Homo sapiens: one gene and its partners. The protein of the gene in region 1 interacts with the protein of each later gene in a pairwise test. Each region holds a gene or a part of one and is shown in the gene's direction. Other genes may lie near its edges. The genes, in order: FHL1, CSRP3, EED, AKAP12, LAMA4, PDLIM3 and NFIL3.

Region 1 (4,091 bases):
ATGAGAGGTTTATAGTAAAAAAGAAAAAAGAAAAAAACAAATGTTGTAATGTTATATTACTTGTATGTGTACATGATTAAATTGAAAGCCAAAACTTTTAATTAAGATACTGAGGTTTATTTAGGCACCTCTCAGCATGTTGGATGTAGTTCAAGAATTTTCTGAAAAAGGAAGCTTGTTTATTAAGTGAAAATGATGTGTCTTTTGAAGCAGGCATAGAAAGTCAGGCTACCCTTTTGGAATAAATGTCTAAAATTTTATCACCCAGCCACATTTCTAACTGTATTCTAAGCTTGTAAAACTTTAATTTAGTTAATTTTTAATTAAATTATTTAATAATGATGCTTTCTGTCTTAGAAAATCAGGGGACATTTATGTGGACCTAAGGTGTAGGTTAGACTTCAGCACCTTACACGTCATATAAGATGATTTTTAAAATCAGGAAATAGTATGTCATATTGCATTAGGTTCATAAGTCCATGAAAGCAGAGGAGAATAGGCCCAAGAAAGAAGTCCTTACAGAAAGGAAATCAGTGTGGTCCTGAAATAGGGTTGGTATGGACAAAATAGAGGCTCAGATAATTGGATCAGAAGCCACTTTCAGTGACTATCCACATACCAAAGTTTTAGAAACTTAGTTGTGGTAACATATCTCCATCTGTCAATCAACAGGCATATACTGAGTGATTCCTGTATACAAAGCCCTGGATTAGGTACTGGGGCCCCCTAGTGTATGAGCAGAACTTTCTGTCATAGAGAAACCCCACTTGTTAGCACTAGGGAATGTATCCAAGTCACTCGGCACCAAAGTATGTTAGCAGCGGGGAATCTGTGGGTCTGTAGCAACCTCATTTCTTGCCTCCTCAAGGAAGAACAAGGCAGAGGGAGAAGCCAAGGCAACTTTTAGAGCAGGAGTGAAAGTTTATTAAAAACTTTTAGAGCAGGAGGCCGGGCACGGTGGCTCATGCCTGTAATGCCAGCACTTTGGGAGGCTGAGGCGGGTGGATTACTTGAGGTCAGGAGTTGGAGACCAGCCTGGTCAACATGCTGAAACTCTGTCTCTACTAAAAATACAAAAATTAGCCAGGCTTGGTGGTGCACGCATGTAATCCCAGCTACTTGGGAGGCTGAGGCAGGAGAATTGCTTGAACCTGGGAGGCGGAAGTTACAGTGAACAGAGATTGCACCATTGCACTGCAGCCTGGGTGACAAAGTGAGACTCCGTCTCAAAAAATAAAATAAAGTTTCAGAGCAGGAATGAAAGTAAAGTACATTTAGAAGATGACCAAGCAGGCTACTTGAGAGATTCAAAAAGTGCATGGTTTGACCTTTGACCTGGGCTTTTATATGTTGGCATGATTCGGGTGTTATATTACTTCTCTCCTGATTCTTCCCTTGGGGTGGGCTGTCCGCATGCCCAGTGGCCTGCCAGCACTTGGGAAGTGCCGCATGCGTGGTGTTTACTGAAGTTGTGTGCATGCTTACTTTAAGCGATTTTTCCCTTAGCAGTAGAGCATTCCCAGAGGTAGGTCTTATACCAGTTAAACACCGCAATTTTGCCTCTTAGTGCACATGCTTGAGCCCAATTACCCACCTCCTGAGATCTCATGGGGACGTGGCTGAGCATCAGTTTCAGGTGTTTCTGTCTATTAGGGACCGTGTTTCCTTGGTGCCAGCTGCAACCAATTATTATTTTAGCGAGAGATAGTTTAACAACCATCTGACCTTCACCTGATGGCCGCCTGACATTCCTGGTTGGGTGGGGGGCCCTCTCTTGCCCTGCTCATGTCTAATACCTACTCTGGCATCCCTACTATGTACAGATGAGGGCTACACCGAGACATTAAAATTAGTCAAAGAGCTGCCCGAGGGCAAACATGCCCTCCACAAAGACAAGTGGTAAGGGAAGAAGCATGGTGATGATGTGTAGCAATTGTTTCCTTCAATGATGGCTGACACTCCCATTCCCGGATAACAGCAATAGGTCAAGGCAGACATATCTAGAAGTTCTGGAAGATTAAAGGCCTTCACATTTCATGTACTTAGAAATAGCTAAGGGGATAAAAAATTATTCCCTAAGAAATAAATGCCTAAGTACATGTAATTCTGTAAGGTTGAAGAGAGCCCAAAAGAAGAGGTAAAATGCTGGCTGGGCATGGTGGCTCATGCCTGCAATCCCATCAAGTTGGGAGGCCGAGGTGGGCAGATCACTTGAGGTCAGGAGTTCAAGACCAGCCTGCCCGACATGGCGAAACCCCGTCTCTACTAAAAATACAAAAATTAGCCAGGCGTGGTGGCATTCACCTATAGTCCTAGCTACTCAGGAGGCTAAGGTAGGAGAATTGCTTGAACCCAGGAGGTGGAGGTTGCAGTGAGCCAGGATAGCACCACTGCACTTCAGCCTGGGTGACAGAGCGAGACCCTGTCTCAACAACAACAAAGAGGTAAAATGCTATCTTCATTTTTCCCTATTCTCTCATTTCAAACAAAAGAAAGTGCAAGCTGGGATGGACGCGGTGGCTCATGCCTGTAACCCCTGTAATCTCAGGTGCGGTGGCTCACGCCTGTAAAATGCACTTTGGGAGGCCAAGGCAGGTGGATCATGAGGTCAGGAGATCGAGACCATCCTGGCCAACATGGTGAAACCCTGTCTCTACTAAAAATACAAAAATTAGCTGGGTGTGGTGTCACATGCCTGTAGTTCCAGCTACTCGGGAGGCTGAGGCAGGAGAATCACTTGAACCCAGGAGGCAGAGGTTACAGTGATCCAAGATTGCGCCACTGCACTCCAGCCTGGTGACAGAGCGAGACTCCGTCTAAAATAAAAAAGAAAGAAAGAAAGAGCAAGCTTTTCTCTCCTCATGAAGTCAAAGCTTGATAGTAGCTCAGACTCAGGGAGCCCACACTCAGGATCTTTGCATGTGTGTCTCAGCATTGTCATTTATAAGCTGGCTTTTTAGAGTTGTTTTGGTCTTGTGCACATCAGCACATCATTCATATTTTATACAAAATTGTGACGTGATCAGTATCTCCTCCAACTTCATCCTGAGCACACTGCGTGCATGAGGGTTTGAAATTGTTTTGTAACAAATAATCATAAATTTAGAAGTACGTGACGTAAGCTAATTCAGGTTGCCCAGAGTTCCACTTAATTTGATTTATTGCAAAACAAATACGAAAGTTCATGAATTTGACATAGACATTGTTAACATACTTTAAGTATTTCTAGCCTGTTTACTTATTATGCAACAAATCCAACATTCCTAGAAGTGCCTATTTTATCTAGACTAATTGTTTCCACACACATTAAAAGGACTCAAGTGAATTGTAGAAATGTATTCTAAAAGAATATGCCCTTTGAAATGATTCTCCATCTGGATACAGACTGCAGGTTTAAGTATAGAGTGGTGGGGAATCTAAGGTGTAAGGTGACCCTAGAGTTTTCAAACTCAGAGTGAAAAAATCTTGCCTAAAGCTAGGATTCAAAAATACCAAGAGATGAAACTCTTCTTATGGGTACTATTAACTTGGGGTTGATTCATTTAATTTTCCTTTTGCTTGGTTTAAGACCATGTACTATAGGAATGATACAGTGGCCAGTGACTTCATTGTCTGACATTTTCAACACCCTTTGTTACTTCTATCTTCACTGGTGAGCTGTGGATTATTTTATCATCTGGATGCTTAGAACTCTGAGCAAGTCATGTTCTAGAACTATGAGACTAAACAATGAAGAACTTTGCACTGGTAATATCAAAGTACTGAAAGTGTGTGGTTTTAAAGTGTGAAAAACATGGCAGTTAAGATCTCTCAGGTACTTTGAACCATAATGCAGTTTTCCTTCTCTTCAAAACCTCTACTTCTAAATGGCATTCATTGTGTTTTCTAGTGTTTTTTCTTTGGTATGACACTAGTTAACCTGTATTTCTTACCATAAAGCTAGGACTCAAATACTAAGAGGTTTGACTCACCTTAGGTGGAACTTTATATAGTACTTTAACTTAGAAATATTTGGAATCAATTTCTGCTTATAAAGGTATCAAAAGCAAGTGATACTAAAACGAGTAGGTTCAAAGTTGTATACTAAATAG
Region 2 (4,793 bases), on another chromosome or scaffold:
TTTGCAATCTACTCATCTGACAAAGGGCTAATATCCAGAATCTACAATGAACTCAAACAAATTTACAAGAAAAAAAAACAGACAACCCCATCAACAAGTGGGCGAAGGATAGGAACAGACACTTCTCAAAAGAAGACATTTATGCAGCCAAAAGACACATGAAAAAATGCTCATCATCACTGGAAGCTCCTCTTTTATCTGCTTTATATACTGATTTTCCTCTTATCTACAGAAAAAAGTATTCTGATGCAAACACACACACAAAAAAAATTTTAAAGCTACTATTGGTTGACCAGTTTCAGTGACTCAAGCCTGTAATCTCAGCACATTGAGAGGCCGAGGTGGGCAGATCACTTGACCCCAAAGTTTGAGACCAGCCTAGGCAAAATGGTGAAACCACATCCCTACAAAAAAATTAGCCAGGCGTGCTGGTGTGCGCCTATAGTCCCAGCTACTCAGGAGGCTGAGACAGGAGGATTGCTTGAGCCCAAAAGATCGAGGCTGCAGTGAGCTGTGATCATGCCACTGTACTCCAGCTTAGGCAACAGAACGGGACCATTTCTCTAAACAAACAAACAAACAAACAAACAAAAGCCACTATCCTAGACGATTTCTAAAGTCCTTTCTAGCTTTAACTTTCTAAAATCCTCGTGATTGCCTCGTCTTTATGATGAAGATGCCATTTAGTGAAAACACAGACCACGGATATCTCATAGGAGGCTATGCCACGGCCGTCTTTGTGAAATTACTGCAACCTTCTTGACAGTGAAATATTCTATCCTTCAACAATTGCTTTGTGGGCAGGTAACCAAAGGGCTAATATCTGATGTGAAGGCTGGATCATGAACCTCCCGGTTGGGTTCTACATGTACCTTACCTCAACATCCGGGTCAACATGAGTGGAAGGGGCTTGGTGCCTCAGTTTCCTCATCTATAACATGAAGAATTGGTCTTCACATCTCTGAACCTCTTGTCAGCTTTTCAATGCCATAATTTATATCAGTCCCTGGTGCTTGATCAAATTTAAACGGTGTGAATTCCAGACAAAGAAAAATTAGACCTCCAAAGAAAATATGGGTCTACAGAGACATATCAAGATGTTATAAATATAATGTGATGATGATAAATATGCACTGCTGTATCAAATTCTTAAATAGAAAAGGATAATAACAAAGTAAATCAAAACTTTTTAGAGAAAACTTCGTTTCCTAGGATAGATGGAGTGACAGGTCCCAAGTGATGTGCCAACCTTTTTTCTCCCAAGCTTCTTTGAAGAGATTATCTAAGTATCGTTTCAGACACCCATCACCCTTATTTTTAGCTCTGAGTTCTCTTCACGAGTGTGGTGACCTGTGGCTCTAAGTTCCAGAGGCTCCCAGATATGGCACATGACTCATTTGCAGGTACCCTGCAATGATTTCCAGGAAGGTCAGTGGGGTGGGGGCCTGGAGAAATGATTTTTGATGTTAAACCCTTAGCTCTTGTTCCTGTTCCAACCACTTGATCAGAAATGACACACTTCATAAATTGATCCCTTGGTGCCATAAGCAATTGGCAGTGCAAATAGAACCCAAGTGATTCGGTTCTCCAAGAGGCTCACAGCTGGCTGGGGGGTTGGGGGAGACAAAACTCAGGGCTTTGGTCACAGTCTATTTTCAGCCCCTGATAGCAGTTGTGTTACTCACGTCTCATTCACCCTCTCCCTTGGCCTCCCTCCTGCCCTTCCCCCAGCAGGCCAAGGCTGGTGACAGCCTTCATATATTTAAAGAGGACAAGAGCCCCTCAGACTCAGTTGAGCTGAACGGAGTCCACACAGGCAGGTGAGTGGAGCAAGGCAGACATTTGAGCTGGAGGTGGGTTGGTTCTGTGGCTGGTTTGGACTATAAAGGGTCCCATAGAGTAAGAGCACATTTTACGTCTCAAGTGCCAGCACCCTCTCTGGTTCTGTGCAAGGAGGCTCAAGTTGTACTTGACTCTGGTGTGGATCTAGCAGGTATTAAAAAATTCCTGCAAGGATGGTTAATATTTAGGGGGCTTAAGGGACCTCATAGGCAGATAAATGAGTAAAGAATTATCCTCATTATAAAACTACTTACGTGGTGGAATTACATTTCCTGTCATCTTAGTTGGAACAACTGGAAAGCGGGAGGAAATAATGGAAAGTCTGCTGACCTTCTCGTCTTACAACCACCATATAATTCATGGATGACAGACTTTGAGAAGGTTCCTGCCCTCAGGGGCTTGGTCTCCTCTTCTGCAAGGATCAATACAAATTGGCGACATTTTTTCCAAACTGTAAAGTACTGCACAGATACAAAGCGATAAGCGATTGTACTAGATGCAATATATAAGACAGCTTTCCCATGCTCAATTTACCTGGAATGGTGTTATTCAAAAGGTCGTGGTGAATGACTGAGATTTTGGGCTTGTTGATTTTAAATAGACTTTTGTATCCCAAAGATATTCAGCAACAAGTTTGCTTTTAATCTTTTGAAATTAATCAAAACTGGACCCCAAAAAGACATTGCTATGTTGAAATATATTAAAAGCTCTATTAAATGGGAGGATAATTTATCCAGTGGTTAGGATTCCCACTGTTTCCTCTAGGTTTTAGTCAAGGACTTTTTAAAATATCCCAGTGAATGACAGACATAGGTGTGATTGAGAATAAGAAGAGGTTTTAAGCAATGGTCTGAGTGGAAATGCTGCTGAAAGATCCAAGCTGCCGACTCTAATTTCTGCCCTGTTCCTGAGCCAAGGTGGTGACTCCTCCAAGAAGGAGGAGTTGAGTTACTGGTCTGAGGAACCTTGTCTCTGCAATACGATTCAATGTAATTTAATAAGCATGTATGGACCATCTCCTATGTCAGGGCTGGAGGGAGGTAGAGGCAGCTCTATGCAGGGAAGGGTATAAGTGAACAGCACGAAGAGTGGGAAATTGGGGATGGCCTGTGTCCTCAGTTTACATCTGGGATTAAATCTCAATGCTGGGTACATACAATTCATCACAATGCATGTAGAACTGCTTTATGATCCAGAAAATGTGAGGGAGTCTTATGACTTGGCTTTGTTCCCTTTCTGAACAACTCAGTCGTTTGTGGTCAGTGGCAATGAGCCCAGGCTATTGGGCAGGAGGTGTAGCTGAGCCCCAGGGCTTTGTGTCCTCCCTGGGGTTCAGGCAGACAGGTGCTCTGCAGCCCAGACACACGTGTCATCCATCAGAAACAGGAGACACAGGGCAAGGGGCCTCCTCCTTCGAAGGAGAGAAGGGGGGAAGGAAAGAGAGAAGGAGGGAGGGAGGAAGGGAGGAAGAGAGGAATGAAGGAAGAGGGAGCTGCAGCAGCATTCAGCCAGCAAATAGCCAAAATTCCCTTGGAGGAAGTGGAGACAGAATCTTGATAGAATAGAAACTCAGAAATCCTGGGATATTCAAGAAGAAAATAAAGATAATCAGTTATAGAGCCCGTTCAAATTATAGCTCTGAATATCACTTAACTTATCTGAGTTTCCATTTTCTGAACAATAAAACTAAGGGTAGCCTACCTCTATCAAAGGGACTTGTGAGAATTGAATGAGATAAAGTATAGGAAAGTACTTTTGTAAAGTTTAATATAACCGTACAAATATGTGAGAACGTTGAGAAAAGGCATACAGCCAAACCCAGTGGGTTTTGGGGGGGTTTCCTGCTAAGTACAAGCGTGCTGATAAAAGTCCAGAGGTCAGAGTGGGTAAGAAGCTGACCAGGAGTTAGAAGATAATTAATTTGTTTTACAAGAGGAAAGACCCAGGGCTAGGAATATAACACACAGGAAATACAAGTCTTGAGGCAGACAGATTTCCAGTTACAAGTGTGCTGTTCAGATATCTGTGAATAAATACTGTATAGAGGGTTGGGCTTCATGCACAAAGAGAAATGTGATGCCTGCAAATGTGAAAAACTGCAGTTATTCATCCCAGTGAAGAATGGCAGGAAGGGAGACAGTAATGGTCTTAAAGGGCATTGAGGATGGAGCCTTTTCTGAGCTTTACTGTGGGAAAGGGTTGATCATGATTTGATGGTCGTTTATGGCCTAGGCAGGCATGGAACGAGTACTAGCTTATTTAAGGGTCACAAAAAGTTATGCAAAACTCATTTTTCAGAGGAAGAAACTAAAGTTCTAGAAAGCTTAGGAATTGCCCAGCATCACATGGCTGAGAAAGCGGCAGAGCCAGGAGGTAAACTGGGATATGATGTGGTCTTTAGAAATAAATTGTAGAGGTCAAAATAGAACAAAGAGTGAGTTTTGGGAAGTAAAAGCTGGCCACGCTTCAGATATAATTTCACAAAAGGTGTAAGATGCCCATGTTCTACAGCCTTCATTTAATGTATGTCTACCATGTCTGAGTTTAAAAGGGGCTGAGAGCCAACACTCAGGTTTATTTCCATGCTGGCAATGAGCAACCTGTTCTTCCTGGGCTCTGTGAAAGGGCCTCTGGCCGGAGGACGTCATATATCTGGGTTCAGAAGCTCAGGAGGAAGCAGCCACTGACCTTGAATGTCCTACACCGAGAACTGAAGGGCATGAGCTCCCCAGACTACAGGGCCCCTGGCTAGGCATGCTGCCTCCAACCCAATCCAACAACGCAAGGGGACCGACTCTCACCCCGACCTGGGCACACCTGTCCTGGGGCACCGCACACTCCAAAGGCTGAAAAACAAAGCTGATTCACAGTCTGAACCAGAAGGGCCATGGAAAACAAGCAGGGAGTGAGTTGTTTGTTCTAAAAGAACAGACTTGAAAACTGGAGATAAT
Region 3 (4,091 bases), on another chromosome or scaffold:
TAGTTTTACTCTTGAGGGAGCCAAATAATGGCAAAAGGCCAAAGCAGATGGGGTGTGGGGGAATATGTTTTTGTGTTAGAGTTCAGGTAACCTGAGCAGTTACTACTGTTAATGTGAGTCAGAGAATTACAGGCACATATTTTACATTTATTGTGTTACCTGCCATTTTATTGAACTTTTTGAGATCATATGACTGCAGAGTAGTTGGCTTCTGCGAGAGTACTAATGGATGCCTTGGTAGTAAGATCAGAGGGCTGAATCTGGAGACTTGTCTTTTTGCTTAAGCAAAAGCAAAGATGCAGGGAATCCCTGTGGCAAGATGCAGGTGCAAATTACTGCCCTGTGTCTCTTTCCTCGTTGGGCAAGTGAAGATGGTAGTACCATGTCTGTTGCACAGTATCATTCTTTACTTTGAGAATGGAATAGGATGGAGGTCACCCTGTACATATATTAGACACTCAGCAAAGACTTGATTTTAGTTTAAAGATAAAATGGAAGCATGGTGGCTGTATTACATTTTCATTTGATTCCATCTTGATTTGCCTTGGGAGGAGATGGGTAAATTAAGTGATCAGAAGTAAAATAAGCAACGTGCCCTATTAACGAATGTTTTGTGTGGCCTCTGTATTGGCAGCTCAGTGTTTAGCCAGAATGTAAAGAAACTGATATATAAAAACGTCTTAGAGTTTTTAAAATTTCAGTTCTCTAGTGTTAAAAGGTAATTTTACAGAAAAAATGGCAAGTGAACACATGTTGAAACTTTTACTCAGAGGGAACCAGGCAAATGTTATACAGTAATGGTTAACCCGCAAAATCAAAACAGTACAAATTTATTAATATATGGAGTAAAGGAATGGAGAGATGAATTCCAAATGGAGACAGAAACTTTTTTTTCCCTTGAGTGGAAGGGAAGACATTTTGAACCTCTACTGTAGAGACAAAATTTACATGTCTATCAGTTATTCATAATGAAAAAAGAGTTGTGGCTGGGCGCAGTGGCTCACACCTGTAATCCCAGCACTTTAGGTGGCTGAGGTGGGAGGATCCTTTGAGTCCAGGAGTTTGAGACCAGCCTGGGCGACATCGTGAAACTCTGTCTCTACCAAAAATTAGCTGGGTGTGGTGGCCAGCTCCTGTTGTCCCAGCTACTCAGGAGGCTAAGGTGGGGGGAAGATCACTTGAGTCTGGGAGGTGGAGGTTGCGTTGAACCAAGGACAGAGTGGGTGACAGAGGGAGAGCCTGTCTCAAAAAAGAGTTGTAAGATAGCTCAAAGACATAGTGGAGGGCTATAGTCTGGTAACTTGGAAGGATGTGCTATATAGATAATGCATAGTTTTCCACTGAGATACAGAATTGTTTTCTACGTTTGATGTTAATTATGTGAATACAACTGAAAAGGTGGAGAGAAAAAGAGATTAAAATACCACATTTTCTATTTCTGTAAAGACTAATGATATTCACATTAAATTACAATTCAAATATTTGTTGAGTACGTACTGCTTGCTACCCGCCTATTATTTCATTTATGATATTTTTTAACCTTCTATATAAAACCAACTTTAGGAAGCAATAATTTAAAAATAGCCCCTAAAGCAGTGTTTCCTAGGCTGTTTAATAGGCATTTCATGGAAAAAAAAAAAAAAAAAGGCTTCCTCTGGAATGTATTTTAGAACTGCTGCCCTAAGATCCTAGATTAAATAAATCTTTTCTTTCCAAAGGAGACATTGGAATCTGTAATCAGGAGGTAGTGGAATCCTCTTCTGAGATTAGAGAGCTGAGATTAGAGGGCCACTCGTGTGTGAGATAAGGTATGAATTAGGAGAATTTTCAAGGTTTCCTGCAGTCATTTCTTTTTTTTGGAAGGATTTACTTTAATTGTGATTGAGAGTCTCTGGAGTTCTGATTTATGAGTATTATTACTTTAGAACAATGAGACAGTTTTAACTTGTAAATAGCATAGAATATATGTAGCACTTTAAAAAAATTCTAAATGTTTTGCGTTATAAGCAGAATTTGAATAACAGGATTTTAAAAAGTGACATCTAATGTAGAAGCCATTAACACTCCTGCTTCAAACGGCTCCCCAGCTCCATGCTCCAGACTGAGCAGCAGTCAAATACATTATGAAGACATATACATCAGTCAGATTTAAGAGTCACAGCTTTGGGATGGAATTACCAGCCAAGAGACCAGTTAGGCTTTTTCAGCACTTCCAGTACCTTTTGTAAAGAGCTGTAAAGATTCACTGATACAGTGTATTAAAGTGACTGGAACAGACCAGTGCCTTATTAAAGACAGTATTACTCTTCCATTATTCTCATTAGTATTTATTTCATTTTCATTTTTGTTGAAATATAAAATATCTACAAACCTTCTAACCTGTAGCTGGATTATGTTTATCCTTATGTGGAGGCAAGAATACATTTTTTTCTTCTTGTAGAAATTATTTCTCTTAGGTCAGTCAGCATCTTCCCAGTAGAGTTATTTACTGCTAAAAACAGTATTGCTGTTTCATGTAATTTTTCCTCATTTACTGCTTACAGGATGACGCTGTCAGTATAGAAAGTGGTACAAACACTGAACGCCCTGATACACCTACAAACACGCCAAATGCACCTGGAAGGAAAAGTTGGGGAAAGGGAAAATGGAAGTCAAAGAAATGCAAATATTCTTTCAAATGTGTAAATAGTCTCAAGGTATGTGCAAAAAAAGATCCTTTGGGCTGAATGCTAGGCTTCAGAAATTATTTCTCTGTGGCACGCATTTCGTACTCAGGATACTCTGTCAAGTTGTAAATATTTTAAAGTTACAATGTTTTCTGAAGGGTTTTTTTTTTTGTAGTTCAGACTGCGTATCTATTTTAGTCCATCCCATGTTTAGTTTTTTGGTTTTGTTTTTTGTTGTTTTAATTTAAATATGTGACAGTGTTGCAGGATGTTTTTGCTTTATTGTTTGCATTCAAATTATAAGATTTGGGTAACTATTACTCTTTATATTTTAGTAAAACTTAAAAAACATAAGCCACTTCTGGCATCAGTTTTTAAAAAGAACTGAATGTAACCCATTAACTTTGACTAAGTATAAATTGAAACAGATGTTTTACTTTGTACAGTTTCTGTCCTTTGTTTTATTTATAACTGTTTTCAAAGAAAAAGGTGTAAAAAATTTTTAAACTTTTTAATATTAAATATTTAGGGAAAAGGGGGTTTTGGTTATTTAAATTAATCTGTCCCCAATAGTATTTTTATTTACTTTATAAAAGGGGTTACTGGTGTTTAAGATATTTTCTTTTATATATGTCCAGTTTGTTTTTTAAATGTGAGGCTATTTTTTTCTATACTGAGGAAAAATGTGTATTATCTCATACATATGTAAGTTAAAACCTTTTCTAAATATCCAAATATATTTTTTATAAGTAAAGTTTTGGGAAAGCATAAGAAGCTATGACTATGACATTTTTCTGTCTGTGTAGCAAAAATTCGATGCTCAGTGTGTCAGATTTTGCTCCTGTAAAAGGAGAGAAATTAATCTCAGCATATTTTTTAAAAGTCAATTATAGTTTCATGTGCATATTTATTTACATTAACGTACTACTTTTAGGTACTGTACCTGGAAGATGTTTTTAGCTGCCTTTTATACTTAAGGCAGTATTTCAAAATCCTAAAGCTGTGGCTTTTCAAATGATGAGAAAACGAAAGACGTACTTTAAAAGTGAAAACAGTGCCTTAAACTGCATCTGAAAGTCAGTGTTAAATGCCAGAAGTTGGCCAGTAAAATCCTAAAGCTGAAAAATAACTTTGTGAACAAAAGTGCATAATTGTTCTTTGTACATCTCCTATAGCCTCCTGGTAACTGTGCAGTTACAGTTTATTTCTTCCCCTAGTCCCCAGTGTTCAGATATTCTCATTCTGACTAACAGAAAACAGTGATTTGAATGGAGTCTGCTATGCTTCACTTTACAAGGGAAAAATTTAGCCTTATAAAATTTAGTGAATGCCAGAGAAGCTATTAAGGCCATCTGTTAATTTCCTGTTTCAGAAAAATAAATTGTGTCCTTTTGTATCCACCAAAATTATCCAGTTTATTGTGAT
Region 4 (4,091 bases), on another chromosome or scaffold:
TTGAACCTGGGAGGGGGAGGTTGCAGTGAGCTGAGATCTCACCACTGCATTCCAGCCTGGGTGACAGTGCAAGACTCCGTCTCAAAAACAAAAACAAAAACAAAAACAAAAAATTTAACCCTTCCTAAATTGACTTTCCAAAGAGGTTCTACCACTTTGCAGTTCCACCGTGGAGATCAGCACTCGTTTTCCCATGCTTTGCCTTCATGGGTATCAGATTTTCCAATACTTGCCAATGTGCTAGGTGAAGAATGGTACCTCAGTTTCCTTGGTGCATTTTTAACTGTGAAGTTGAATGCCTCATCATGTTTCTCTGCCATGTGCTTGCCATCTGATCATGCACTGGTCTGGCTGTCAGAGCATGAAAGGCTATGGTTTGTTTCACTGTTAATTAATTTTCATTTTCATTTTCATTTAACTTTAATTTTATTTATTTATTGTTTTTGAGATAGGCTCTCATTCTGTTGCCCAGTGTGGAATGCAGTGGTGCAATCTTGGTTTACTGCAGCCTCGACCTCCTGGGCTCAAATGACCCTCCTACTTCAGCCTCCTGAGTAGCTGGGACTACAGGCACACACCACCAGGTAGCTGGGACTACAAGTGCACACCACCATGCCTGGCTAATTTTGTTTATTTTTGGTAGAGACAAGGTCTCACTGTGTTGCCCAGGCTGGTCTGGACCTCCTGGACTGAAGTGATCCTCCCACCTCTGCCTCCCAAAGTGCTGAGATTACAGGTGTGAGCCCCCATGCCCTGCCCAATTAATTTTTAAAGATTTTTTTTTCTAGCCAGGTGTGGGGGCTCACACCTGTAATCTCAGCACTTTGAGAGGCCAAGAAGGGAGGATCACTTGAGAGAAAGTTCAAGAGTGGCCTGGGCAACATAGCAAGACCCCATCTCTACAAAAAATAAAAAATTTAGCTGGGTGCGGTGACGTGTACCTGTAGTCCTAGCTACTTGGAAGGCTGAGGTGAGAGGATTGCTTCCACCCAGGAGTATGAGGCTGCAGTGAGCTATGATCATGCTACTGCACTACAGCCTGGGTGGCAGAGCAAGACCCTATCTCTATTTAAAAAAACAAAACAAAACAAAAAAACAAAAAAACTTTTTCCCCAGAAATTAATCAAATTGGAAAAAAGCAAGTTCAAGAATAAAAACGCAGCTGAGGTAGAGCAGTCTTACTCTCCTTTGCTCCTTTTCCTTTCCAAATTAATGAACCATCTTTAAATTTATTTGCTTGGAGGATGACCTACTTCTTTAGCTATCACTTTTAAAATTTCTTCTCTTGGAACAATCTAAAATCATTTAGTTGCCAGAAATTACTTTGTGGTCATGATCCGTGAAATGTTGAGATCAGGGATTGGAAGCAGCAGAAATCCACCTCTTGGGAAAACAATAGAGTGAAGGCTTACCCGGGATCCTCTCCCGTTCTCACGGCAAACAGCCTGGCTCTGTTAACTGGATGGTATACATGGATTTTCTGAGAAAAATGTAGGTGTTCAAAGCACAGGAAACCATCTGGGACACCGGGACACCATTAGGCACCTCTTAATACAAGTATTCATTTCAGGTTCAAAGCTTTTTGTCTTCCCTGTGATTTCTCTGTGATGTTTTTTAAATGGGGGAAACCCTGTAGTTTCTCTCTGCCTAATCTTAATCCCAGTTGTAGTAGCATGTCAGTTTCATGTTTGATTTCAAAACGAAATAAACCAAAATTTAAGAAGGAGAGATTACTGCAGTTTATTGGCTGACCATCTATTTGTTATATGCAAATACTGCAAACTGGGAGTATTGAAGGATTAAATTTTTCCTAATTCCCAAACCTGGTGGTGCTATTGAATCACCTAGAGAGCTTTTCAAAGACACCCCTACACCTCATCCTGGATTTATTGAATTAGAATCCCAGGCAATCTCAGGGTCTGGGATTCTGTGATTTTTTTTTTTTTTTTTGAGAGACAGGGTCTCACTGTGTTTCCCAGGCTAGTCTTGAACTCCCGGACTCAGGCCATCCTTTGGCCTCAGCCTCCTGAGTAACTGAGACTACCAGCTCCTGCCACTGTGCTGGGATTCTGTAGTCTTAAAATGCTCATCAGATATTCTAATGTGTGGGGTGTGGGCTCCATTACCTTAAGGGAGGGGAAGGAGTAGGCGTAAGAGCTGAATAAGGGCCAGGGAGAGGTTCAGGTCTAGGTGACACTGGGTGATAGCATGTGCAGATTTCACTGAGATTGGAACTTGTGTGGGTGAGAGGGACGGTTTCACATGATGAAAGAGTAGCATTTTCCTTCACACATCTGGAGGATAAAATAAAGGAAAATATTTCTTCCACATAATTTCATTCCTTTGTTTGACTATATTAAAAAGTGGGTTGCTGGCCGGGCATGGTGGCTCACGCCTGTAATCCCAGCACTTTGGGAGGCCGAGGCGGGCGGATCACGAGGTCAGCAGTTCAAGACCAGCCTGGCCAACATGGTGAAACCCCATCTCTATTAAAAATACAAAAATTAGCCAGTATGGTGGTGTGTACCTGTAATCCCAGCTACTCGGGAGGCTGAGGCAGGAGAATCGCTTGAACCTAGGAGGTGGAGGTTGCAGTGAGCCGAGACCGCATCATTGCACTCCAGCCTGGGCGACAGAGCAAGACTCTGTCTCAAAAAAAAAAAAGTGGATTGCTAACGGAGGCTTTTTAAAATAGATTGTGCCATTCAAGGTAAGTAGGTGTTCAGTGAAATGCCCGTATCCCTACTGAGCCAGAAGCTGTGACTTTTCGGTGTTCCCCTTCCATCTCATTGCCTCCTAAGCCCTCTTCCCTTATTTATCATTTTAAAACTTCCCTTGTGCTGAATAAGTAGACAGTAGCTAAGGGCTTAGTTTATGGCATTTGACTGGTCCAAAAATCTGTAAAGAAATTTTAAAACCTACCAAGTTGTTGAAGAATAGAGTTCTGGCTTTCTCAGCCACTTACTATTCAATCTTGATTTCATAAATATTTCTGTTTTAATTTCTTCCATTTATTTTTTAATATAATAGAGACAAGGTCTCACTGTGTTGCCAAGGCTGGTCTCGAACTCCTGAGCTCAAGTGATCCTCTTGCCTTGGCCTCCCAAAGTGCTGGGTTACAGGGTGAGCCACCTACGCCTGGCCATTTCATAAATACTTCTTTACTAGCTTCTGTACTCCAGGAACTGTGCTAGGAACTGGGGAAACAGAAGTTCAGTTCTAAAAAAGTTAAAGTTCTCTCTTTCATATATTTAGATCTTTATTCCACTAGCTACTGATGATGTCTAGAAGGAGAAATCTTAAATTCATTTTTATATGGGTTACCTATTGCTCCAGTACCATTGATTAAAAAGTTACCTCTTGTTAAAACTCAAGTTTCCATATATGCATAAACCTGTTTATTGATTTCCTTTTACTTTTAAATTTTTTCTGCTGTGTCTATTTGTGCAATAAACTGAAAGCATTGTGGGAGTGGCTAAACATCTGATCAATTATAATAGCAAGCCCATGGTTTAAAATAGTTTTATATTCTACATCTCAAGTGTTACCCTTGTCTCTTTCATGGCTATGGTGAGTTCATACATACATAAATACCAACATGTGGCTCGTGGGCATGGTGGCTCACACCTGGTGGGCATGGTGGCTCATGCCTATAATCCCAGCACTTCGGGAGGTGAGGGTGGGAGGATCACTTGAGCCTAGGAGTTCAAGATCAGCCTAGGCAGCATAGTGAGACCCCACTGCTACAAAAAATTTAAAAATTAGCCGGGTGTGGTGGCACATGCCTGTAATTCCAGCTAGTTGGGAGGCTGAGGTGGGAAGATCACTAGAGCCCGGGAAGTTGAAGCTGCAGAGACCCTGTCTCAAAAAAATAAATAAATAGGCTGGGCGTTGTGGCTCACGCGTGTAATCCCAGCATTTGGGAGGCTGAGGCAGGTGGATCATTTGAGGTCAGGAGTTTGAGACCAGTCTGACCAACATGGTGAAACTCCGCTTTACTAAAAATACAAAAAAGTTAGCCGGGTGTGGTGGCGCCTGCCTGTAGTCCCAGCTACTCTAGAGGCTGAGGCAGGAGAATCGCTTGAACACGG
Region 5 (4,091 bases), on another chromosome or scaffold:
GTTCCAGTAATAAAGAATACAGTCTTATTTCTCAAATTCAGCTAAATCTGACTCTACTCGCATAACAGATGTTCCTATCTTACAATTCCTTTCTCTCCTCAGAGTATGTTTTTCAGACTGGAAATGCGCAATGGTTACCTACATGTGTTCTATGATTTTGGATTCAGCGGTGGCCCTGTGCATCTTGAAGATACGTTAAAGAAAGCTCAAATTAATGATGCAAAATACCATGAGGTACAAATCATTGTAGTTTGGTTGGTTTTGTTTTTGTTCTTTATACTTAGATCTGTTGATCTAATCAGGCAGTCAAATGAGACAGGCAGGATGGTAAATAAACTGAGAACTTTCATATCTAAAGAGCAACTGAAGGACCCTCATCTTCTCAACCCTAGGAAAACATTTACTTTAAAACATTGGATGTATTTTTCCTGTTGATGTTCCAATTTAAAAGTCACTGAAAGATTCCTTTTAATTGCTTAATTAACCAGAAGGCTTCTATTAATCTTAAATATCTCAATTGGTATTCCTACAGGATACTTCTATACATTTGTTGAATGAGCCAGAGTGTAGATACACAGCCTTTTTTTGCTTATCCTTTGAGCCCCACCAAATTTAACAAGAATACATATAAGTAAATACAGAATTTCCTTTTAAACCACTTATCCAGAATTTAGAAAATACTAGCACAGTTTTCCTTATAAAGAGAACTCACAAAGAATCCCCTTTAGTTTTGAAACAGATGTGCAGACTACTGAAAATATACTTCATCCATTTTCATTAACTATTTTAAATATACAACTTAATAAAGTGTATACAAGGCATAATATCTTTTAAGTTGAACCAAAATGCGAAGGGTAGGAGACTGTATTTCCCTTTTCAGTTCAAAGTCCATAGCCTCATGAGAATGGTTTACAATAAAAGAATATTTTAACTATTTCTCTGACTAGCATTTTTGCAGATTCATTAGAACTGCTCACTGTGTCACCAAAAAAATTACACCTGGTAACATGCAATCTAGATTCCAGAAGGCACCTGCTTGGGAATACAATAGGGGTCACCAGGGGTTAGGGGATAGGGAAATAAGAAATTGCTGTTCAATGTGTATACAGTTTCAGTTGTGCTAGGTGAGTAAGTTCTCGAAATCTGCTGTACAGCATGGAGCCTATAGTTAAAACTAATTTAAAATTTATTTAGGATAGATCTCATGTTAAGTGTGCGTAACACACATGCTCACACACACACACACACCACAAAGGGACACAAGGAAATGCTGGGAAATGTGTGATATGTCTCTTACCTTGATTGTAAGATGATATGAGTGTTTGCATATGTCCAAGCTCATCAAATTGTATACATAAAATATGTGTAGTTCTTTGTATGTCAACTAGACTTGAATAAAGTTGTTTTTTTAAAAAAAAAGAGAATGGTGGCACCTGTTTATAGTTCTTTCCTGAATCCTCTCAGAAGGAGCAGGAGGAAACAATAGGTCTAATCGCAAAATTTTTCTTGGGCTGGCTCCTCTTCATACAGACCTCCTTTCCCAGAAAGTGTGAACTGCTGCTTGTAGAAGCAAGAGTTTTCAAGTCTGTGAGAAAAGAAAATCTATCTATTCCCCATTTTGTGAACAAACAAGCACAAAGGCATGGAAGAACAGCTAGTATACCAGGAGAATTAAAATATATAGAAGTCATCAAAGAACTGAATATTAAATAGTTAATCAAGGCTTACTATATATTATCTCTCCCAGATCTCAATCATTTACCACAATGATAAGAAAATGATCTTGGTAGTTGACAGAAGGCATGTCAAGAGCATGGATAATGAAAAGATGAAAATACCTTTTACAGATATATACATTGGAGGAGCTCCTCCAGAAATCTTACAATCCAGGTAAGGCTTTTTGTTAAGTAGCTGTTTGTTCCTAGCAATGTACTGGGCTGGCAACATCCAGGAGAGGTCTAGTAACAGTGTACGCACCCTTACTTGCTACTTTTACACACAGGGACAGGCACAGGTACACACATTCATGTACCTTCAGGCCCTCTGCAGTCAGTCCTCAGGACCTCCTGAAATTAGCATCGCATAGATGTAATCACAGATTTCTTCAATTATTGTATTACTCTTAGAACATGATCTAATGCAGTATTTCTCATCAATAATAGGAACGGTGGAACATGTGTATTGTGTGAAGACAAAACAGCATTTGTCCATTTACTTTTGCTTTAGCCTTAAACCCATTTTGAACTCTCCAATAGCATCTGAGCTACACAAATTTTTAAGGTTATCCAAAGGGTTGTGTATTATGTATAATGAAACATTAAGACACTCCCCTAAACTTTGTTGATTACAGATGTGTTGGAAATAATGCCAAAATGGATTCATTAATGACGTGGATTAATAAAAGTCTGAAGACCTGTGTTCAAATCCTAACATCACTTGTGACATAAGAGAATAATTTATTTCTTAGTTTCATTTCTTAGTTTCATTACGTTAAACCCTGTGAAATTACTAAGAATTGATTATATTTCTGTGTAACATGTTAGTTCCTATGATTCAACCTAATAATCGTCTGCTAAAGGGAAATCATAGCATCTCCATCTATTTCACTGAATTGTTATAAAGATAAAATGAGATAATGTAAGTTAGAGCATTTTGAAAACTGTAAGGAAGAAATTGGCTTGACGTAGAACAAAACTCTTCTATAGGCAAAGATTAGACATTGCTGTGTGCCTATCAAAGAAAGCATGAGAATATGAATGATTATAAAGCCATTACAAATGACTATAAATAAATGCAAATTCCATAGCCTACATATGCAGGGTAACATCATCATCATGGCTGTATCAGTGAGGCTGACTTTCTTTTCCAGGGCCCTCAGAGCACACCTTCCCCTAGATATCAACTTCAGAGGATGCATGAAGGGCTTCCAGTTCCAAAAGAAGGACTTCAATTTACTGGAGCAGACAGAAACCCTGGGAGTTGGTTATGGATGCCCAGAAGACTCACTTGTAAGAACCACTCAGTCAAAAGCTTTTTAATAGACACAATACTTATCACTCTCAAAAGCTGGAAAAGTTCTTTTCAGCTTCTCTCTGATCCTAGGTACACCTTGGGTTCCTTTCTGCCACCACCAGAAAGAAGAACCATTAAGCTAGAAGGGCTCTTGTGCATGGGGTTCCTCTGTGACTTGTTCGTTTGCTTCAGTTTTCCATGGGTGGGGCATCTAACACCCAGAGAGGGTGTGCTAGCATCATTGTTCACTCAGGTTGGAGTCAGTGGAGAAGATGAAACCCCATCTCTCAGAGGAGCTCCTAGTGTATGCCTGAATTCCAACATAGACCAGAAGTGGGAAAATAAACTATTTACGTAGAAATTAACAGGCAAGGCCTTCCGTATGTGAAACATTGATAGTTTTAAGCATTTGATAATTCTCAAAAACACTATCTCCACTTGTTCTGGCACACAGATATCTCGCAGAGCATATTTCAATGGACAGAGCTTCATTGCTTCAATTCAGAAAATATCTTTCTTTGATGGCTTTGAAGGAGGTTTTAATTTCCGAACATTACAACCAAATGGGTTACTATTCTATTATGCTTCAGGGGTAAGTGTTTGTTTTTCTCTGAGGAAACTTCTTTGTGATAATTGTTTTGCCTATTAAAAATAATTTGTAATGCATGTTAGAAGTGATTTTCTATTCAGATTAATTTTGACTCACACGTAGACACACAGAATGCCTCATTTCAAACACTTTATAAAATATTCTATGTATTGTATATCAGAAGTTCCTAACCTGGAATTCATAGACCCACCCCCAAGGGTTCATGGATAGAATTCAGGGGGGTCTGTGGACTTAATGCGAAAAGATTACATCTTTATTTTCTCTCACTGAAATTGATCATTTTCTTTGATTATGACTCTAGGCAACACACCACAGTAGTATTACCAGTACCTGTGACTTTGTCATTAATAGAAATCACAGATTTTTTTGTTTCACATTACAATTGTCACAGAAATCTCAGAATGTCATTTTTGCTCATTGCTACTTCTAATGTTATTAGGTCTGCTATGGAATCTTATTCTTTAATGCC
Region 6 (4,091 bases), on another chromosome or scaffold:
CTATTCTTCATCAAGGTGGAATTGTGAGTGGCTGCATACCAGCCTACAACTAGATTTGTTTTTAACTTTTAAAACAAATGTAGTTTTTTTCGGGTGCATTCTACTTGTACATGTTTATGGGGTACGTGTGCTGTTTTGATATATGCATACAATATGTAATGATCAAATCAGGGTAATTGGGGGTATCCATCACCTCGAGCAGTAACTTTCTTTGTGCTTTGGAACATTCCACATCCACTCCTCTAGTTATTTTGAAATATACAAATAATTGTTGTTAACTATAGTCACCCTGTAACTACACTGTTAATGAACTTCTTTAATCAAAAGTAAGTTGGACATGCTAGTGCTGGACATGGCGGCTCACACTTGTAGTCCCAGAACTTTGGGAGGCCCAGGTGAGCAGATCACCTGAGATCAGGAGTTTGAGACCAGCCTGGCCAACGTGATGAAACCCCATCTCTACTAAAAATAGAAAAATTAGCTGGGCATGGTGGCACATGCCTGTAATTGCAGCTATTCAGGAGGCTGAGGCATGAGAATCACTTGAAGCTGGAGGCAGAGGTTGCGGTGAGCCAAGATTGCACCACTGCACTCCAGATGGGTAACAGAGTGAGACTGTCTCAAAAAAAAAAAAAAGTAGTAAGTTGGACATGCTAAATTGTTAACAGCTCAATTTCCCTGGGGTTTTACCATTAGCTATAGTTCTTTTGATTATTTCATCATAACTGAAGCCTTTTAAAAGACTGGTGTTTTCATATACAAATATGTAAAATTTTTAAGGGTAAAGCTACAATTAAATACATATGTAAGGTATTTTAGATCCAAATGATAAAATGCAATCCTATGAGTGGTTTTTGGACAAGTTGCTTCCGGAAGTATGCCCCAAAATGTCTGTACACACCCCAGAGAAATTAGCAATCTGTCAAATGACGTATCTGGGCATGAAGTAATTGAGTGTGTTATCAACCTTACAAGTGGCCTTGCCAAGTCACTAAGTCAACCCCAGAAAATCTCATTAGCACCTGCCTTTCCAGGTCATCAGGAACAGGTCGTGGTGACCCACGGTGCTATCCCCAGTGATATCCACAGTGACTGGAATCCATGAAAACTCGTTTACTTAAAGGATCAGTTTAAAAGATCTTTTTAAATTGGCCCAGAAATTTATAAAAGTTCATTCTTGTTTGCTTAGGGTTCATTACTCATTTATTTAATAGACATGGGCCTGATTGATAAAGGAACTGGGAATGCATGTTTAACTAAAATTACATAGTACACACATATGCATATACTGTTGACCCTGAGAACACGGGTTTGAACTGTGCAAGTTCACTTATATGTGGATTTTTTTTCCAATAAATATGTTGGAAAAATTTTTGGAGATTTGCGACAATTTGAAAAAAGTCACTAATGGTAGCCTTGAAATATCAAAAAAATTAAGAAAAAGATTTGCCATGAATGTATACAATACACATAGGTAGTAGTCTATTTGTGTGCTAATAGACTGTTTATCTGTAAAACTTCGGTTCAACAGTAGGCTATTGGTAGTTAAGTTTTGGAGGAGTCAAAAGTTATACATGGCTTTTATAGCAGAAAAATATTACTAATAACCGCTATAAAACATGGCATAAGTAAAAGTTCTAAATTGATCATTGTTTATCTACCCAGTACGGGCACTATGTCTGGCACACAGTAGGGTGAGAGTAGTTATAAATGCTTGTTGAGTAGGTTCATTACTGGGAGGCCGAAGTCTCCCAGGATTTAACTCTGTGTTTCAAATCCCTAAACTGATTTCATAAGCTTCATTACACTCAGGTTAAATCCACATGATCCTGACTAAACTGCACTACAACTGAAAATGTACTCATATTCTTTTACCAGCTGAAGTCCATTTCAAGAGTCACTATAGATCGTACAAAAATGGTGAATAGGCCACTTGATATTTTGGTATGTGATCTAAACAATGTACAGATTGGGTTTTCAATAGGTTCTCAAAAGGCAGGAAGTGAAGGAGCAAGCTGGTATTCACCTGTCTGGTTTAGGTTATGTAGGTAGTTAAACTGGATAGCACAAGACAAAAAAAAAAAAATTTAAACCCATTTAGTGACATGAGTTCTCCAGACTAATCCGGCTGCAACATTGCTGGAGTAGAGAAAGTTACTGCTCAATACCTTTTGGTTTCTTATCTTTATATGGGCTGAAGTTAGCATTAATACCTCTAGAGAGTAAATGCAGATATGGGGCCATACTTGAGACCAGAGACAATCTTGACTTAGCGGTAAACACACCATATACATCCATTCTCTGTCTTGAGCTTACAGCAACACTAACTGGAAAGTATGATAAATATTTACATTAATACTAATATTTCTTTTTGCTTTGTCTTAAATGACTATGCTTTTTTTACAAAAATCTCTTGGTATCTCTCATGCATGTGGAAAAATGGACTTTTTAGTCACTAGCATGTCAGTTGTTAACTGACCCCTATCCAGTTTCCAAATAGAATGTACAATCTCCCTAGTTCTTCGATGTGCATGACTGGCCTTTGATGTTTTAATAAGTCCCTGAAATGTATCTTTAAAAGGAAAAGGGAAATATGCCTGGGAATAGATGCGTGCTTCTGAAATTGTGCATAAAATAGCTATGTAAGAAATATAAGCATCGAAAGAGTGAAACACCACCTTATTTCTCCTCTAATCATTAATTTCAAGGTGATAAGCATTTATTGGTTTTTTCTAGGGCTTGTATTAAACCACTGAACAATTGTCTTAAAGTATACTCCTCACAGAACTAAAGAGTAAAAATAGAAAATGTTAAAATAGTAACAAAATATTTACAAGATAGCCTTAAAACATAATCTGTACCATAAAACCTACAAGTTACCAATTACTATTCAATTAAAGTTCAACCGTATTACTGAAATATACTTCTGATTTTGAAATGTTGAGCCCAAATATGTGATTGCATCTTCATGCTGCATATTCAGTGTTCACTAAAACTTTAATTTTAAATGTTGCACTTCAGAAATGTAAAAGGATGTCCAGCCAATGTAATTTTCCTTCATCACTTGTGATATTGACCAGTTTTAAAGTCTTTGGCCTATTTTTAAAAAGTGAGGATAGCTGCATCTTTTCTACTTCATATACAACTTTTCTACATGTAACCCTCAAATTACACATTGCCTAGTGAAACAGAGCCAAAAAATGCAGTATCACCTGTACCTTTTAATTTTATTAAACTTTTTTCAATCATGAATTTTTCACCGTCTTCCCTTTATAAATAAATTCTAGTGACAAATCAAGATTTGGTTTTATTTTGATGTAATTCACCTCTCACTTTTGTCTTCAATTCCTTTTAACCTCTCTGTACGTGTTCTCTGTGTTCTTCTGTCTGGACTGTCTGGCTCCCGGTGCCATCTCTGTGTAACGTGTATCCATTAACACAGTGGATGCAGCACTCCCTCCGGGATTGACTGTGGCAGTGGACGCAGCACCCCTTCTTCTGTCAGTACTGTTAGTACCATTTGCCCAGGTGACTTGAAAGTTGCGGCTAAGCTGGCCCCTAACATTCCTTTGGAAATGGAACTTCCTGGTGTGAAGATTGTACATGCTCAGTTTAATACACCTATGCAGTTGTACTCAGATGACAATATTATGGAAACACTCCAGGGTCAGGTTTCAACAGCCCTAGGGGAAACACCTTTGATGAGGTAATATGAGTCTCTTTGAACCATGGGCATATTAACTAAACACGTGGGCAATGTCAGCTTTACTGGTGTCTTTTAACATTGTCTTAATGGAAAGAAAGCTATGTGAAAAGCTTTTTTAAAATACTAAGGATTTACTGCAAATATCTAGGCTTGGAAAGAAAGCTATGTGAAAAGCTTTTTTAAAATACTAAGGATTTATTGCAAATATCTAGGCTTGGTGATAAAGGTGATTTGAGGAATTATCTGTAGAGCTTTATGTGTCAGATAGCAATAAAATGAAATCAGGTAAGGACCAAATGTATATGTCTCTCGAAAGCTACAATGTACTTTACAAATATCTGGTGTAATACTTCTCAAAGTTATTTATAATCTAGTATACCCTATG
Region 7 (4,091 bases), on another chromosome or scaffold:
CCATGAAAAGAAGTAAAGCATTTCATTGACGCAGATACTGTGAATTTTACCCACAGGAAGAAAATGTAGGGTTAACATATTGCTAGTATTCATACTTTAAAAGTATAAAGAGATGTGAATTGATTAATTGATTTGATTTTTTCATGAAAATGACATTTATCTAAAAAATAAGCATCTGCTGTCTTACTGGAGAGGTGGCTTACAGTTTAACATAACTTAGGTTTACCTTGAAGACATTTTTTTTTCCTTTACTGTTATCTGTATTATATAACAGGGAGAAAACAATACATTCAGAGAGTAGAGGGAAAATAAGATAATTCTATAATGTTTCCAAATCATTGGGCATATCAAATAGTATTTCATCTTCTATTGACAGAATTTTAAAAACAAAATATATATTGCAATTTGCAATAAAACTTACCCTTTATAGATAATTAATAACAAAATGTTCTCAGAGTAGATTTTAATGTTTAGACTATTAGTAAGATTTCAGATGATTGAAACAAAGCATGTTTATTCTTTTCTTTTGTGGAGCTTGGATTGTTAAACATTAGTTCTGGGAGAGACCAGGGAAGATAAAGGTCTATCATAAACATAACTAATGAGATAACTCCTCAAGGATAAATTTGGTCTAGAATTATTGTTATGAGGTTATATTCTTTTATAGAATTTTCTAAATCAAATCTTGTACTTAATTAAAAACAATAGGGTAATCTGACTTAAACTTTAAAAATCTGGGCTTATGAAATATAATTCTTGCTATATAATTCTTGCTTAGAGAAGTAGTGTGATGGACTATACAAAAGCATTAATTAGTGATGGCACCTTCGGAGTATGTATGGAAAAATATGTCAACTGGTAGGTAATAATACCTGCTCTTAAATTTCTCTTTTTTATTTGTGTTTTCAAGGAGAGTCATATCATCTAATGTGTGTAATGAAGTTAATCGTGCTGAATACACTAACATCATAGAATTGGCATGTAGTGTCAATTATTCACCAAAAAAGAAACTTAAGCAATGACTAATATACCACAACATTAGATGTTGATTTGAAAAGATGATGCATAGATGAAGTAATTGTTAAATTAATCATAAGGGAAAATATTGAGGCTTGAAATAAATTTGTTAGGTTAGCATAAATCCTGAGGCTTTTTGAAGGCATCGTAAACTACTTTTGCATTTGCTTTAAGTTCATTGTTGAGGGGCATAAGGAGAGCTCAGAGCCCATCTGTGCCCAACTGCTGTGTGGTCTTGGGAAGGTCAGCCTGTCTTCTAGCTGATTAATCTGCAAAATGAGAGGGTCAGAGAGACACTGTCCCCCGCCTCATGTTGAAAACAGATTACACTCTTGGATTTGTTAAAAAAAAAAAAAAAAGAAGAAGATCATAGGTGACAATGTCCACAGCTATCATATTTCTTTTTCTCTATTTAACATAATTAGAATAGCCAGGAGGTTAAAATTTTAGTAAAGATATGAAAATTAATAAAATGTTTTCTCAATTCATAAATAGTGCCAGATCTGAAACATCTAAGGAGGATGGAGAAAAGTTCTAGATAGTATCTTTGCTGGCTAAAGAAGTTAAGACAGCATCTAAGAGAAGTTAAGGAGCCAGGCGTGACGGCTCACGCCTGTAATCCCAGCACTTTGGGAGGCTGTGGCAGGCGGATCACCTGAGATCGGGAGTTCAAGACCAGCCTGACCAACATGGAGAAACCCCGTCTCTACTAAAAATACAAAATTAGTTGGGCATGGTGGCGCATGCCTGTAATCCCAGCTACTTGGGAGGCTGAGGCAGGAGAATCGCTTGAACCCAGGAGGTGGAAGTTGTGGTGAGCCAAGATCGCGCCATTGCACTCCAGCCTGGGCAACAAGAGCAAAACTCCTTCTCAAAAAGAAAAAAAAAAAAAAAGAAGAAGTAGTTAAGTTAGCATAGTGCCTTACTGCGCCCAAAGTAACTTAGTAAAAGGGTATGTATTACTCAGAAATGAAAGTGACACAAAAGAGAACTGTGTGTAAATGAGACTGCATTGCAAAGATGCAGAACCACCTGTGAAAGTGTAGGAGAGAGTAAAGGAACTGGGCCTGAATGTACGCTCTGCCATTTAGCTATGTGACACTGGGCAAGTCACTTGACTTCTCTGAGCCTTAGTTTTCTTATCTGAAAATTGTCACCAAAAGTGAATGAAAGAAAGCAGGTCAGGCTCCCAGTGCCCATTCTGTGGTAAGTGTTCAATAAATGGCACCAATTATGATTGTTTTTGTTATTATCTCCATGACAAGAAGAAAGCCTGCACCCCAGGCCCATGTTTGTGCAACTCTGCACTCACACCTGGTTCCCCTCTGCTCACCTGTTTGTCTCCCACCCACCCACGACTGAGCGCCTGGTCTCGGGAGTTTGGTTTTTCTCTCCCTCTTTATGTGCCCCTAGTCTCCCCTTGTGCCCAGTACACAGTAGGTGCTCCATATGTGTTGAATAAACAAATTAATGAATAAGAGAATCTCTCTGTTAATAAGTAAAATATCTTCTTTACAATTCACATAACATTAAAAAGAAAGCATCAAAAAAGTTTTCTGTTTACAAAACTCTCTTATATAAGGTATATGGGTGACTGTCAATGAAATGTTGAGCACCTAATATCTTCAGGTTTTTGCTAGAAGACAAGTATATTTTAATTTCCGCCCTGAAGTAATTCGCAGTGTAGTTGGGCACAAAAGACAAACACGTGGAAACACACACAGTGTATATGATTGTGCCTGTCTCCGTATCATCCCATAATGCTGATAAACTCTTTTCAACACTGCAAGATTATTTGATAGATAATATTACAGAAAATATCCTAAGATAGTGTGGTGATTTGCCATTGAGTTGTAGAGACCATGAATGTAATACATACAGATGAGAGCAGAATCACAGATTTATAGTGACATGCCATGAAATTCAAATAGGAAGAAGATGATTAAAAACAAATGAGGTGGCCTGGCGAGGTGGCTCACGCCTGTAATCCCAGCACTTTGGGAGGCCAAGGTAGGCAGATCACCTGAGGTCGGGAGTTCAAGACCAGCCTGAACTCCCCATGGAGAAACCCCATGGAGTTTCCCCATCTCTACTAAACCCCATCTCTACTAACATGGAGAAACCCCATCTCTACTAAAAATACAAAAGTAGCTGGGCTTAGTGGCACATGCCTGTAATCCCAGCTACTTGGGAGGCTGAGGCAGGAGAATTGCTTGGACCCTGTAGGCAGAGGTTGCGGTGAGCCAAGATCGTACCATTGCACTCCAGCCTGGGCAACAAGAGTGAAACTCTGTCTCAAAAACAAAAAAGCAAATGAAGTTTTCTGTAGGTTAATGTACCAACAAAGTTGTAGAGATGATAAAGTAGTCATATAGTACTTAGACACCTAGAAGACATGAGTTAAGGAAATTTTAAGACAAATGGGGCTATTTCAGTTAAATAGAAATAGGACCTATTGTGAAGGCTCCTTCCCAATTGGGCCCCAACCTTGAAAAGGTCCTAGAAGTTTAGGAAGAGTAACTAAGGCAGACAGAATGGCGGGGCATTTCAAAAGCATTACTGTAAATCTAGTAAGTGAGGCAAAATAAAGGAATCTGATTTTTTTTTTTAAGAAGGAACAAATAAGATAACACATGGAAGAGAAAGATTCTCAGGTGGAGAAAATAACCAGAATAATAGTCTGCAAGGGATCATATGATGTTTAAAAACTAAAAGTGGAAAAAAGTAGTGGCCAAGAGTATAGTGGAGATTTGAAAGGTGCCTTGGGAAAGGTCAGTGCAATTGTCTTCTTTAACTGGGATATCTTCCTCTTTACTTCTCCACTCATTTTACTTTAGCAGGAGGACTTTGCTGAATGGCAGAGTGCAGACTTCAACAGAGGAAAGAATCCATTCAATATGTAAAGGAAACTGGGTTTTCATATTAGAGGACAAAACCTAAATGCAAATTAGAGGAAATAGTATTGTTGGCCGGGCGTGGTGGCTCATGCCTGTAATCCCAGCACTTTGGGAGTCCGAGGCAGGCAAATCACCTGAGATCAGGAGTTCAAGACCAGCCTGACCAACATGGTAAAA

What was found.
Region 2: the proteins of FHL1 (region 1) and CSRP3 interact in a two-hybrid assay, tested with the Homo sapiens proteins (one large-scale study listed by BioGRID and IntAct).
Region 3: the proteins of FHL1 (region 1) and EED interact in a two-hybrid assay, tested with the Homo sapiens proteins (one large-scale study listed by BioGRID and IntAct).
Region 4: the proteins of FHL1 (region 1) and AKAP12 interact in binary tests that used the Homo sapiens proteins (3 or more experiments, as listed by UniProt).
Region 5: the proteins of FHL1 (region 1) and LAMA4 interact in a two-hybrid assay, tested with the Homo sapiens proteins (one large-scale study listed by BioGRID and IntAct).
Region 6: the proteins of FHL1 (region 1) and PDLIM3 interact in a two-hybrid assay, tested with the Homo sapiens proteins (one large-scale study listed by BioGRID and IntAct).
Region 7: the proteins of FHL1 (region 1) and NFIL3 interact in a two-hybrid assay, tested with the Homo sapiens proteins (one large-scale study listed by BioGRID and IntAct).

What each region holds. Positions count from the first base shown.
Region 1 is NC_000023.11:136,199,936-136,204,026, forward strand, and holds part of FHL1 (four and a half LIM domains protein 1), read left to right. Parts: intron 1-4,091.
Region 2 is NC_000011.10:19,198,981-19,203,773, reverse strand, and holds the start of CSRP3 (cysteine and glycine-rich protein 3), read left to right. Parts: upstream 1-1,790; 5' UTR 1,791-1,820; intron 1,821-4,793. UniProt on the Homo sapiens protein: Positive regulator of myogenesis. Acts as a cofactor for myogenic bHLH transcription factors such as MYOD1, and probably MYOG and MYF6.
Region 3 is NC_000011.10:86,247,753-86,251,843, forward strand, and holds part of EED (polycomb protein EED), read left to right. Parts: intron 1-1,696; exon of another isoform or gene 1,697-1,808; intron 1,809-2,543; coding exon 2,544-2,696; intron 2,697-4,091. UniProt on the Homo sapiens protein: Polycomb group (PcG) protein. Component of the PRC2/EED-EZH2 complex, which methylates 'Lys-9' and 'Lys-27' of histone H3, leading to transcriptional repression of the affected target gene.
Region 4 is NC_000006.12:151,246,335-151,250,425, forward strand, and holds part of AKAP12 (A-kinase anchor protein 12), read left to right. Parts: intron 1-4,091. UniProt on the Homo sapiens protein: Anchoring protein that mediates the subcellular compartmentation of protein kinase A (PKA) and protein kinase C (PKC).
Region 5 is NC_000006.12:112,132,266-112,136,356, reverse strand, and holds part of LAMA4 (laminin subunit alpha-4 isoform 1 precursor), read left to right. Parts: intron 1-102; coding exon 103-234; intron 235-1,747; coding exon 1,748-1,890; intron 1,891-2,869; coding exon 2,870-3,008; intron 3,009-3,466; coding exon 3,467-3,604; intron 3,605-4,091. UniProt on the Homo sapiens protein: Binding to cells via a high affinity receptor, laminin is thought to mediate the attachment, migration and organization of cells into tissues during embryonic development by interacting with other extracellular matrix components.
Region 6 is NC_000004.12:185,507,914-185,512,004, reverse strand, and holds part of PDLIM3 (PDZ and LIM domain protein 3), read left to right. Parts: intron 1-3,442; coding exon 3,443-3,706; intron 3,707-4,091. UniProt on the Homo sapiens protein: May play a role in the organization of actin filament arrays within muscle cells.
Region 7 is NC_000009.12:91,413,444-91,417,534, reverse strand, and holds part of NFIL3 (nuclear factor interleukin-3-regulated protein), read left to right. Parts: exon of another isoform or gene 1-1,969; intron 1,970-4,091.